Linked DNA regions of Homo sapiens: region 1 is linked to region 2. The links come from fine-mapping of genetic effects on gene expression. A gene starts in region 2. The other region holds a variant in brackets. All regions are shown on one strand. Distances are from middle to middle. Region 1 overlaps TNIP1 (TNFAIP3 interacting protein 1). Region 2 holds the start of TNIP1 (TNFAIP3 interacting protein 1).

Region 1 (5,000 bases), 28 kb before region 2:
CTAACAGGCCCTGGGCACCTCTCTAGTTACTCGCCAGTTTCCCTCGTTAACACAGAAGGTGCAGGCTGCAGGCCCAGAGCCTTCAATGTGCAATGATCCTTAGCCTGAATTTATTAACATCCTTTCACTTTCATTGTATTTAGAGTTATCTTCTATTTATCACAGGTAATGCTGTTTTCCATTTACTCTAGTTAAAGTTGCCTTTATAATTTTAAGTAAAAAGATGAATCAAATTAAAGTAAAATTCTAAGTAACTAATAAGGCAGGTGATAGAGGAGATCATAAAATTAGTGATGTGGATTCAGGTCTGACTAAAATGTTTCTTCTTTCTTTTTTTTGAGATAGGGTCTCGTTCTGTCACCCAGGCTGGAGTACAGTGGCCCAATCTCGGCTCACCACAGCCTCGACTGCTCCTACTCAAGTAATCCTCCCACCTCAGCCACCCCCAACCTCCCCCACCACACACCCCCACCCTCTTGAGTAGCTGGGACTACAGGCACACCACCACACCCAGCTAATTTTTTTGGTATTTTTTGTTGGGGCTGGGGGAGGGGTGGTGATGTATTTCACCAGGCTGGTCTCAAACTCATGGACTCAAAGCAATCCTCCCGCCTTAACGTCCCAAAGTGCTGGGATTACAGGTGTGAGCCACAACGCCCAACCACCACTTCTTTATGTTCTATTTGCCAGCTGAGTTTCCGCTTGAAAAACCAATAAGTAAAATGACTTTCCCAAGGTCATACAGCAGAGACTTGCATTCTTGCCTTCTAATCCGTGACTTTTTTCCCCAGCTTCAGTTTCTGAATCCATGGATGGGGTCACTAGGGCTATAAAAACCCCAAAAGTGCATCCTTGGCCATCCAAAAGCAAATAAATTACACACTGATTCAAAATAGCCAGTGGCTCAGTAGTTAAACATTACTTCTGTGGCCATACTTACAAAGTTTATATTCCTTCTCTTTCTGTTGATTCTAATAAGAAACAGGAGAGGAGGGAAAAACAGAGTGGCAAGTCCTGTCTGTGACACGGGCCTTTCCTATGTGCCTGAGCCCAGCTGGTACCCACCAGATGACTCATCACCCAAACTGTCCAGGACCACAGTGCAGGCAGGAATTGTGGCCACTCACAGGATGGAGAGCAAGGAGGCCCAAGTTCCTGTTGTAAGACTCCAATCAAGTCCCTGCCTCTCCCTGGGCCTCAGTTTCCCCTCTGCACAGTGAGAGGTCTGTCTGCATGATCTCCAAGGGCTTGTCAAGCTCTGACAGTCAAGATCAGTGTTTCCCAAGGCGTGATCCTGTGCCTACCTCGTTCATAATCACAGAGACTCCTGGTGAAATGCAGGCTCCTAGGTCTTGCCTAAGACCTGTCAATTCAGAATCTTGCAAAGGAAGGAAGGGAAGGCGTATAAACTTGTAATGCCTTTCCCTGACCCTCAACCCTCAGTTAAGTCTAAGCCCCCTAGTCCAGTGGGGGAGCTCTCATGTTCTCAGGAAGACAGAGCAGGTTGGGATGGTGACCAGCAGGAGGCAGCAAAGTCCTGAGTCCTCTGGACAGCCAGTTCACCGTTAACAGGGGAGAGAGGCAAGTGCTGGAGGAGGAAGGAAGTACAATCTATGCTGACCTTCTTCTGAAGCTCTCAAGGCACTCTATACACCTCCCAAGGTGGCAAAAGGGCCAGAGAGAAAATACCAAAAGAGCCAAGGAGAAGGATCAAGAGACGTAACCTCCAAATAGGGCTCTGGGCACAGGGCCTCAGAGCCACGGTCCTCAACCCAGAAATCAGTGCTGCACACCAGCCCCTCCTCCTGCAGCCCCCACTCCTCACCCCTTCTCTGAGGGGCCTGAACTTACCGCAGCCTCTCGGCAGCCTGATCCCGCTGTTCCAGGCCCTTATCCAACTTGGCCTTCAGAGCCTCGTTCTCCTTCCGAAGCTGCTCACACAGGGTCTGTGGGGCAGGGGAACAGACAGGGTGAGGGAAAGGAGGGGCCCCTCCCAGGTGCAGGCTGAGCTAGAGGATGGTGGGGGGCCTGTAGCCACCCCAGGGCCCAACTCCTTATCCCCTTTGCCTGGCCTCACCCCATCCCTCTCTAAGGAGCTAAGCCACTTGGCCACCCACGTGTCCTCTCCCTTGGGAGCCAACTACGGAGAAGCCTGACCAAGTATCAGCCATGGGGCCTTCTGCTCCTCCAAGACAGACAGCTCCATCCCTTCTCCTTCATCCCTGCTCCCACTGCCGGGACCCCTATTCCCCACCAGCCTCCCCCAGCTGACTTCTACCCTTCTTTGAAGTCTTAGTTTAAATCCCATCTCCTCAGAGAAGTCCTCCCTGACTCCCCGATCCAGCTACATTAGGCTAACTCCGTTATCCTTGCTCACAGCCCCCCGCTTTTACGCTTCTCAGCACCTGTGGCAGATAAAGCTAAAGAACTGTTCGTGCTGCTGTTTTCTTAATATCTACCCCCTTACCCCTAATTAATTCCTGAGCTCCCGGAGGGCTGGGACCCCTAACCATCCTCTTGTTCACTGCCAGATCCCCAGCCCCCAGCTCAAAGTTTGTGGAAGGAACAACATGACTGAACAGCCAAATGAGCAAATGGACAAATGAGCAGGCGAGTCCTAGGGGGGCTGAAAGGCACACCAATTTGCAGGTGTGAGAGGTGCCCAGTGTTGCCAAGGGGAAAACCAGAAGACAAGGCATTCAGTCGGGACCTCACTATGCCCTCACGCCCTCACAATGTGGCTGTGACACTTGGTTCCTCCTCTACAAAAGAAAGACAACTG[T/C]TTCTCTTTTTTTTTTTTTTTTTTTTTTTTTTAAGACAGAGTCTCACTCTGTTGCCCAGGCTGGACTGCAGTAGCATGATCTCAGCTCACTGCAACCTCCACCTCCCAGGTTCAAGAGATTCTCCTGCCTCAGCCTCCTGAGTAGCTGGAACTACAGGTGTGTGCCACCATGCCTGGCTAATTTTTGTATTTTCAGTACAGACGGGGTTTCACCATGTTGGCCAGGCTGGTATCAAACTCCTGACCTCAAGTGATCCACCTGCCTCAGTCTCCCAAAGTGCTGGGATTACAGGCATGAGCCACCACACCTAGCCCAGGGACAACTGTTTCTTCTCTGCCTCCTCTATAGGGCTGCTGAGAGGGACAGATGAGACAGTGAGAGTGGAAGTGTCCATGAACCATCAGTCACTTGCTTATGTGCGGGGACTCATATTGGAAGCTCTGTGAACTGGGGGCATGGAAGAGGGGTCGCCAGACTCAGGACCTCACAGGCTGGGGGGAAGGGAAGGTGCTGACTAGCAATGCTAGCATACAGTGTCAGCACAGAGTTGTTCAATCTTTCCACAGATCCTCACTGAGCACCTCACCTGTGCCAGGTACATTGCTCGGTGTTTCTCCATATACTGCCTCACTGGTGCCTCACAACTTCCTCAAAGCTAAGTAACTCATCTCTATGTTAAAGGTAGGGAAACCAGGTAAAATGATACAGTCTAACAGGTGCACAGCTGCTAAGACTCATCACTGGCGGGGAGTAAAACTCCAATTGGCAGACCCCACACTGGTGTCTCTTTCCCCTGTGATGAAAGATCAGAGAAGGGAGAGAGATGGTGCCCAAAGGAGGGGACAGCCTTTGAGCTGGGCCAGGACCAGGGCCATTCACTAAACAGCCATCTGCTGCCTTCCACCTCCCAGGCCTGTTGCAGGTGGATGCAACCATGTGACTAGTTCTGGCCAACAAAAGAGGTGTAGAAGGGACAAGCATCACTCCTGGACTGGCCTACGCACAATTCTCCAGTCTCTTTTTCCTGGTAGCAGGGGCTGATGTGGATGCCTCGTATTCTAAAGGGCACCGGAAAGTTGGGCCCCTGTCTCCCTGGGACTCTAAGGAACTGTGTAGAGCAGAAACAAACCCCTGCCACACAGAATAGGAGGGAAAACTTTTGTTGTGTAACCCAGGGAGATTTCAGAGTTGTTTCATTTCTGACTCACAAAGGAGACTCTTGGGAAGGCTGAATGGAGGACACAGCCTTCAACTGGAGGTGGCTGGACAATGAGGGAGATGAGGCTTAGCAAACAGAGAACCAGCTGGGCATGGTGGCTCACACCAGTAATCCCAGCACTTTGGGAGGCTGAGGCAGGAGGATCACTTGAGCCCAGGAGTTCAACACCAGTCTGGGCAACATGGCAAAACCCTGTCTCTACTAAAAATACCAAAAAATTGGCCAGGCATAAGGGCGCATGCATGTAGTCTCAGCTATTCAGGGAACTGAGGTGGGAGAACTGAGCCCAGGAGGTCAAGGCTGTAGTGAGCTGTGGTCGCACCACTGCACTCCAGCCTGGGTGGCGGAGCAAGACCCTGTCCCCCAACACCCCTTAAAAAAAAGAAATCAAAAAATTATTGTTATGAGTCCATTCAATGCCTAGCAGAGAGCCTTATGCTATACCTGACCTTGAATATGTTTGTTTAGTGAACCAAGAAACACATCAGTGAATGAATGAGGAGGAACTGGATCAATACACCTCCACCCAGGCAGTAAAAATACCCAAGATGCCATGTCTCTGGGCGAGGCCTCCAGGGAACAGAATGGCCTGCTCCTAGTCCCTAAGGGAAGGCCAGGACAAGGCCTCACTTGCTGTCCTACCCTTGCAGTCTAGAGAGCTGTTTCCTTGGAGTCTCTGGGCCAATGCCCTGGGTGCAAACCGGCCAATGGATAGAATCATCAGAGGTCACAAAGATCATCACCTTCCATCCAAGGTGCTACGAGAGCTATGAGTTCATTTGATCATTTATTATTTTGTCCTTTCATTCATTCACCAAGTGTGTATGAAGTGCCACGAACTGGGACGCAACAGTGAATACAACAGACATGGTGCCTGCCCCCCTCAAGCTTACCTTCTAGCAGAGAGTATAAGAAAAAAAAGAGTATAAGAAAAAATGTATTAAATAAAATTATTACAAACTATGATAAGAGCTAAGAAGGAAATAAACAAGGAGGGG
Region 2 (5,523 bases):
TTATTCTACTCATTCACTGAACAAACTCAGAAGAGCCATCCACCAGGCACTCTTCTCCCGCTACAGAAATACACTCGAGAGGACTAAGGAGGTCCCTGCTCACCCCCTTCTATTCTAGGAAAAGAGAAAGACAGTAAACAAATAAACACTAAAAATAACAATTTGCCAGACACTAAGTTCTATACATATGCTTTCTCATTCGCAAATAAGATTCTTTCATAGCATGATACACGTATGAGAAAAATAAAATAGTAACGTGACAGAAAGTGAAAAAAGGGGCTGCTTTGCATAAAAAGATCAGGGAAGGCCCCTCTGAGGAGCTGACATTTGAGCTGAGACTTGATCGATAAGGAAAAACCAGCCATGGGAAAAACGGGGAAAGATGTCCTGGGCAGAGGGAACAGCATGTATGAAAGCCTAAGGATGAGAACAAGCTTGGCTTGCTGGAGGGGGAAAAGCAGGCCAGCATGGTGTGACCAAATCACAGCGGGTACAGGAGTAAAACAGTAACCAGTGGGTTGGAGAGAGAGGCAGACAAACAACCTCCTACAACGCTGCCTCTCTCAAATCAGGTCGGCCTGACCCAACCAGGACATCCGGGCCCCAAGTCACAGGCAGCACTGGGGGTAAGGGTATGACTCAGACCCCACAGCTTCCTGGGGCCCCGAAAAAACTGGTGGGGGTATCCAGGGGCAGGCATCAACCTTCAGCATGAGTGCCATGCCATACCCATGGAACACCCAAGGCTGGGAGACAAACGTGGTTACATAAGCGTGTAGAACACTGCACACTCCCAGCGGCAGCTTCCAGAGGGGCATGATCACGTGCTTCCATGAAGTGCCAGTCCCTGATCACATTATTTTCCCGGGACACAGCCAGGACAGCAGCCTTGGTCAGGGGAAAGGGAACAGGGTCCAGGATTCAAGCGTTGCTAGTCTTGGGAAAGCCTTAACCTTCTCTGGGCCTCAGTTTCCTCATCTGAAAATTAAGAGTTGTTAGAAAGATTAAGTGAGGCCGGGCGGGGCGGCTCACACCTGTGATCCCAGCACTTTAGGAGGCTGAGACGGGCGGATCACTTGAGGTCAGGAGTTTGAGACCAGCCTGGCCAACATGGTGAAACTGTCTCTACTCAAAATACAAAAAAATTAGCCGGGGATGGTGGCGAGTGCCTGTAATCCCAGCTACTCGGGAGGCTGAGGTAGGAGAATCGCTTGAACCTGGGAGGCAAGTTGCCGTGAGCCGAGATCGTGCCACTGCACTCCAGCCTGGGTAACAGAGTGAGACTCTGTCTCAAAAAAAAAAAAAAGATTAAATGAGATACGGAATGTAAGCACTGTGCCTGGCACATAGTAAGCTATTAGCATTATCAGTTTTTTCACTGCCTCAGTTTCTTCTGTTGCAAAACAGAGACCACCACGGGGATGCTGAGTTTGTACTAATATTCTACCCTCCTAATACAATTCTACCCTCCTTTGTCAAGGATTTTTTTAAAACATTCTGAGTCCCCTTTTCTGACCTCTCATCAGATGCCGAATTCCCCTCTATCACACCCCATTGTTTGGAAAATGAGTAAGTGCTGATTAAATCCCATTTTGACCGTACTGTGAGAAAAAAATGATGCATTAGGAATCTACACATTTCCCTGCACTGTCATTCTGCAAGGGGGTGGGGAAGGACGTTGCTGATTCTTCTGCATCATCCACAAAAGTCCCTCCCTCCCCCTACCAAAACACAATCTCTCACCCAGTCGCACAAAATTCCCATCTGCTCCTGTACGCACAATGAATGTACAATGCACACGTGCACACAAATGTCCTACAGTGGAAAGCTCAGCCTTCATACTCCATCCCCAGAAGCACTCCTGGAAACTCATCCATCCTGCACATGCACACAAATGCCTCCAACAATGTGCATACAAAATATGTTCAACAGAAATAGTATAGTAGGAACTCTGGAGCCAAATGCCTGAGTTCATATCTGACTTTGCAACTCACAGCTGTGTGACCTCAAGCTCCAAGTACCTCGGTTTCCTAAAGTATAAAATGGAGATAATAACAATATTAATGTTTAGGATGGAAGTGACAATTAAATGAGTCTAATACACGTACAGCGTTAAGATCAGCACTTGGAAAGCGCCCAATAAAAATTATTATTTTCCTCCTCGTGACATATGTACACTGCTTCCACAACTTGATACGAAAACTCCTGACGCCGCGTAGGCAACTCGTCTCCACAGGATAGACACCCAAAGGGCCGCAGCGCCGCCCGCACCCGGAGGGTCTGCGCTCTCTACAACCGCCCCACGCCGTTCCCAGGCGTGCTACCCCGCGCAGTGCGCACGCGCGCCCCCCACCAGGCCCAGCGCCAAGCAGGGAGTAGCGGCTCAGCCCGGCTTGGCCGCTGGCGGAGACGCCCCGGGACCCCGCGCGCCGGGCCTGGGTGCACAAGCCACCTTCCCCAGCTCGCTCCCCGCCGCCACCGAGGCTCTGGACGATCTGGGCCTGGCCTCCCTTCCTCCCCTCCATCCCCGCTCCGGGCCGGCCGGCTTACCCGAGGACGGGGAGCTTGGGGACACAGCGCCCCGCTTGCTGCGTCCAGCCCCGAATCCAGGGACGGGGCAGCGGCCCGGGCAAGGCTCCGGCCCCCCGTAGCACTCCTAGGGCTCCTGGACGGGGGCAGGGCACCCGGGCCGAGGACGAGGAAGTGCCGGGGGCCTGGCCGGGCCGCCCCACCCCTGGGAAAGTCCCCGGAGACTGGCAGGCCACTCGCCCAATCGCGCCGCGCGCTCCGGGCGGGCCCGCGGCCGCCTGGGGTGGGACCGAGCGAGGTAAACACCGGCTGCCTGCGGTTCCGGGGGCCCGCGGTGTCTCTCGTCCCTTCGGCGGCCTTCCCCTCTAGGAGCGACTTCCCTGGGGCCACCGTCCCGGGCCTGCGCGGCGCCTTGCCGCACTCCCAGCGCCGGAAGCCCCTGTCGAAGGCCTGGGGCCACCTTGAAAGCCGGAATTTCAGAGCGGAGGCGAGCCACAGAGACCACCCAGCCCCTTCCTTGTGCCGAGGGGAACACAGGCCAGAACAGGGAGGGGACCTGCCAAAAGGCACGTAAGCATTTGGCCCTAAGCCAGAGCTGGAGCTCAGGCCCCCAGAGTTCCGTCCAGGGCACTCCAGGACTCTTCTTAACAAAGCTATAGAAATTCCGAGCTGAAAAGACCCATAAAGACTCTACCGCGAACATTTTTTGCTCCAGACATTGTAAAGGATTCCCAGACATCGTAAACGCTTTGCTCCAGACATTGTAGATGCTTTGCGTGCATTATTTTCTTCGCACAATCACGCTAGGGAGGTGGGTTTTACTACCTTTTCTTAAATAATATTTGAGTCACAAAAAGGTTAGATGACCTCAGTAAGGGGCTGAATCAAGATTCAAACCCGGGTGGGCAAATCCAGAGGCCGCCTTCCACCCTACCTACTTATATGTGGGCTAGATAATCCCAACAGACTGGGATTTCCTAGACCGGTAAGGAACATAAACTTGCTTTAAGGGTAGGAAAGCTTTTTAAAAGCTTATCCTTTTATTTTTAAAAAGAAAGAAAGCTAAATTTTAATTCCAAAAAGTGGAAGGTCTAACCTTGGAATAAAGAACAGCTCTTTAAACTAAATATAGCTTTATGAAAAACCTATTGCAAAAGACCCATTTCACTGGTACTGTTGAAAACTTAGTCATTGACAGGCCCTCATCCTCAAAAAGAATTAGGGGAAAGGATTTGGGGAACTGTTTAATACACACCCTCATTTTACAGAAGAGAGACCCATCAATCAACTGTGACTTCGCAATAATACACACACAGATACTTGCCCAAATTATATACCTAATCTGGGGATTCTCCTATAAGGCTTTGTAACCTCCTAGGGTTCCTTCAGTTAATTCAACGGTGTTATCAGATCTTCAAAACGATATTCATTCTAGTTTAATTATGAAAAGAATTACACTTATGCCTTGATTCAGAAGGGAGGGAGGGAGGAAGCGATGCAAACTCCAAAGCACCACTGAGTCTCACCACTGGGGGATCCTACAGAGAAACTGGGAATCCTGGCCCTGGTTTACATAGCAGCTCCCAGGCATCGTCTCCACCCATCAGGTCCGCACCTGCCAGTTTTCTTCCTGCTCTTTGTGCCTGTACTTCCCAATTCTCTTCCTGCAGGGCTCTCTTCCTATTCCCAACCCACATCTTCTCCACCCCCACCCTCTACCCACTGAAAACTAAAATCTACCTAAAAATGGCTGGTCTCTAATTACTTGCATTTTGTTTCCACACTATTTCAGCTGTTTTTATAGCATGTCTGGCCTTAGCCGGGCAGACAGTTTCATTTCTCAAAGTGTCCGCTGGGAATTCTCAAGCTTGACATAAAAAAATGGCACTCAGTCATCTTTTTGTCTGATTTCCTAGTTCTGGATCCTTTTTCTTAACAGTTCCAATTTGTGAGAAAACTCATTTATTTATAAAGTCGTGACTGCCCCCACCTCTTCCATTCTTTGAAGTCTTGGTTTGTCTTCAGGACATTCCACCCTGTTAGAGACCATGGAGCCCATAGATAACAAACCCCTATTTGACAGATAGGTAAACTGAGTCCTCTGTCTAGAAAAGGACTTACTCTAGGCCACACACATTGAGTGACACAACCAGGGCCTTGGAATCCAGGGCCTTGGCTCCCAGTCCTGTGTGCTTGGTCCACTGTACCAAGTTGTCTTTACAATGACATGATTTTTCTCACTGCCTTGCAGAAAACACCACTGTCATAAACACAGGCTATGAATTGAGCTAATGGGATTCCAATCCCTGCTCAGCCACTTACTACCTGGGTGGCCCCTCTAAGCCTCAGGCTTCTGTCTGGAAAATGGGGGATAATATACCTATTCCTCATGTGAATCATGAGGATAAATTGGACAATGCAAATAAAGCCCAAGGCTCAGCACACAGTAGGCATTCAAGAAATGATAGTGGTGTCTAGATGTGGGCTGCATGCATTGGGTAGAACTTGGCTCTTAAACTCAGCAATGCAACCTCACCAGGCGCCATCCCACCATACACATCCTCTGTGAGACCCTAGCCTCTAGGAGCATGGCAGGAATGGGAGACAGGCCCCCTAGCCTGGCACTGCCTGCTACCCTGTGGTCTGGAAGGGGATTTCCAAGTCAAGAAGCTGGGCCTGACGCTGGGAGCTGAGTGACTCAGGCAGGTGCAACCTCTTGTTCTTCCAGAGTAATGACAAGCACTCGCACAAAGCCACACCCAGAAGGAGAATCAAACTGCCTTTGTTTTGTTTTGTTTTATTTGGTTTTGTTTTAAAGCACGCAACTTCTCGATCTCCTTTCTGCTACTCCCTCCTCCACCACCCCTACTGAGGTAGCTACAGAGTCAGACCCAAATACACATTTGAAGGTAATAAAAAACATATGAAAAATCCATCTATAACCAACTTAACTCTAGAGCAAGTTCCAGAAGAGGGGTGGAGGCTGCATAATAA

What was found.
Region 1: its variant is fine-mapped to the expression of TNIP1 in whole blood (TOPMed, PIP above 0.99).

The regions. Positions count from the first base shown.
Region 1 is chr5:151,050,314-151,055,313 of GRCh38, forward strand. TNIP1 (TNFAIP3 interacting protein 1) reads right to left here. Exons shown (of 18, transcript NM_006058.5): 7 at 1,852-1,946. Among named protein-coding and RNA genes, the nearest start is that of TNIP1, 28 kb to the right of the region's middle. The variant T/C (reference allele first, on the strand shown) is at 2,783.
Region 2 is chr5:151,078,330-151,083,852 of GRCh38, forward strand. TNIP1 (TNFAIP3 interacting protein 1) reads right to left here and starts at 2,705. Exons shown (of 18, transcript NM_006058.5): 1 at 2,551-2,705. RefSeq lists silencers at 535-584, 2,270-2,939, cis regulatory regions at 2,217-3,005, 2,505-3,274 and enhancers at 2,815-3,525, 3,240-3,299, 5,112-5,221, 5,342-5,451.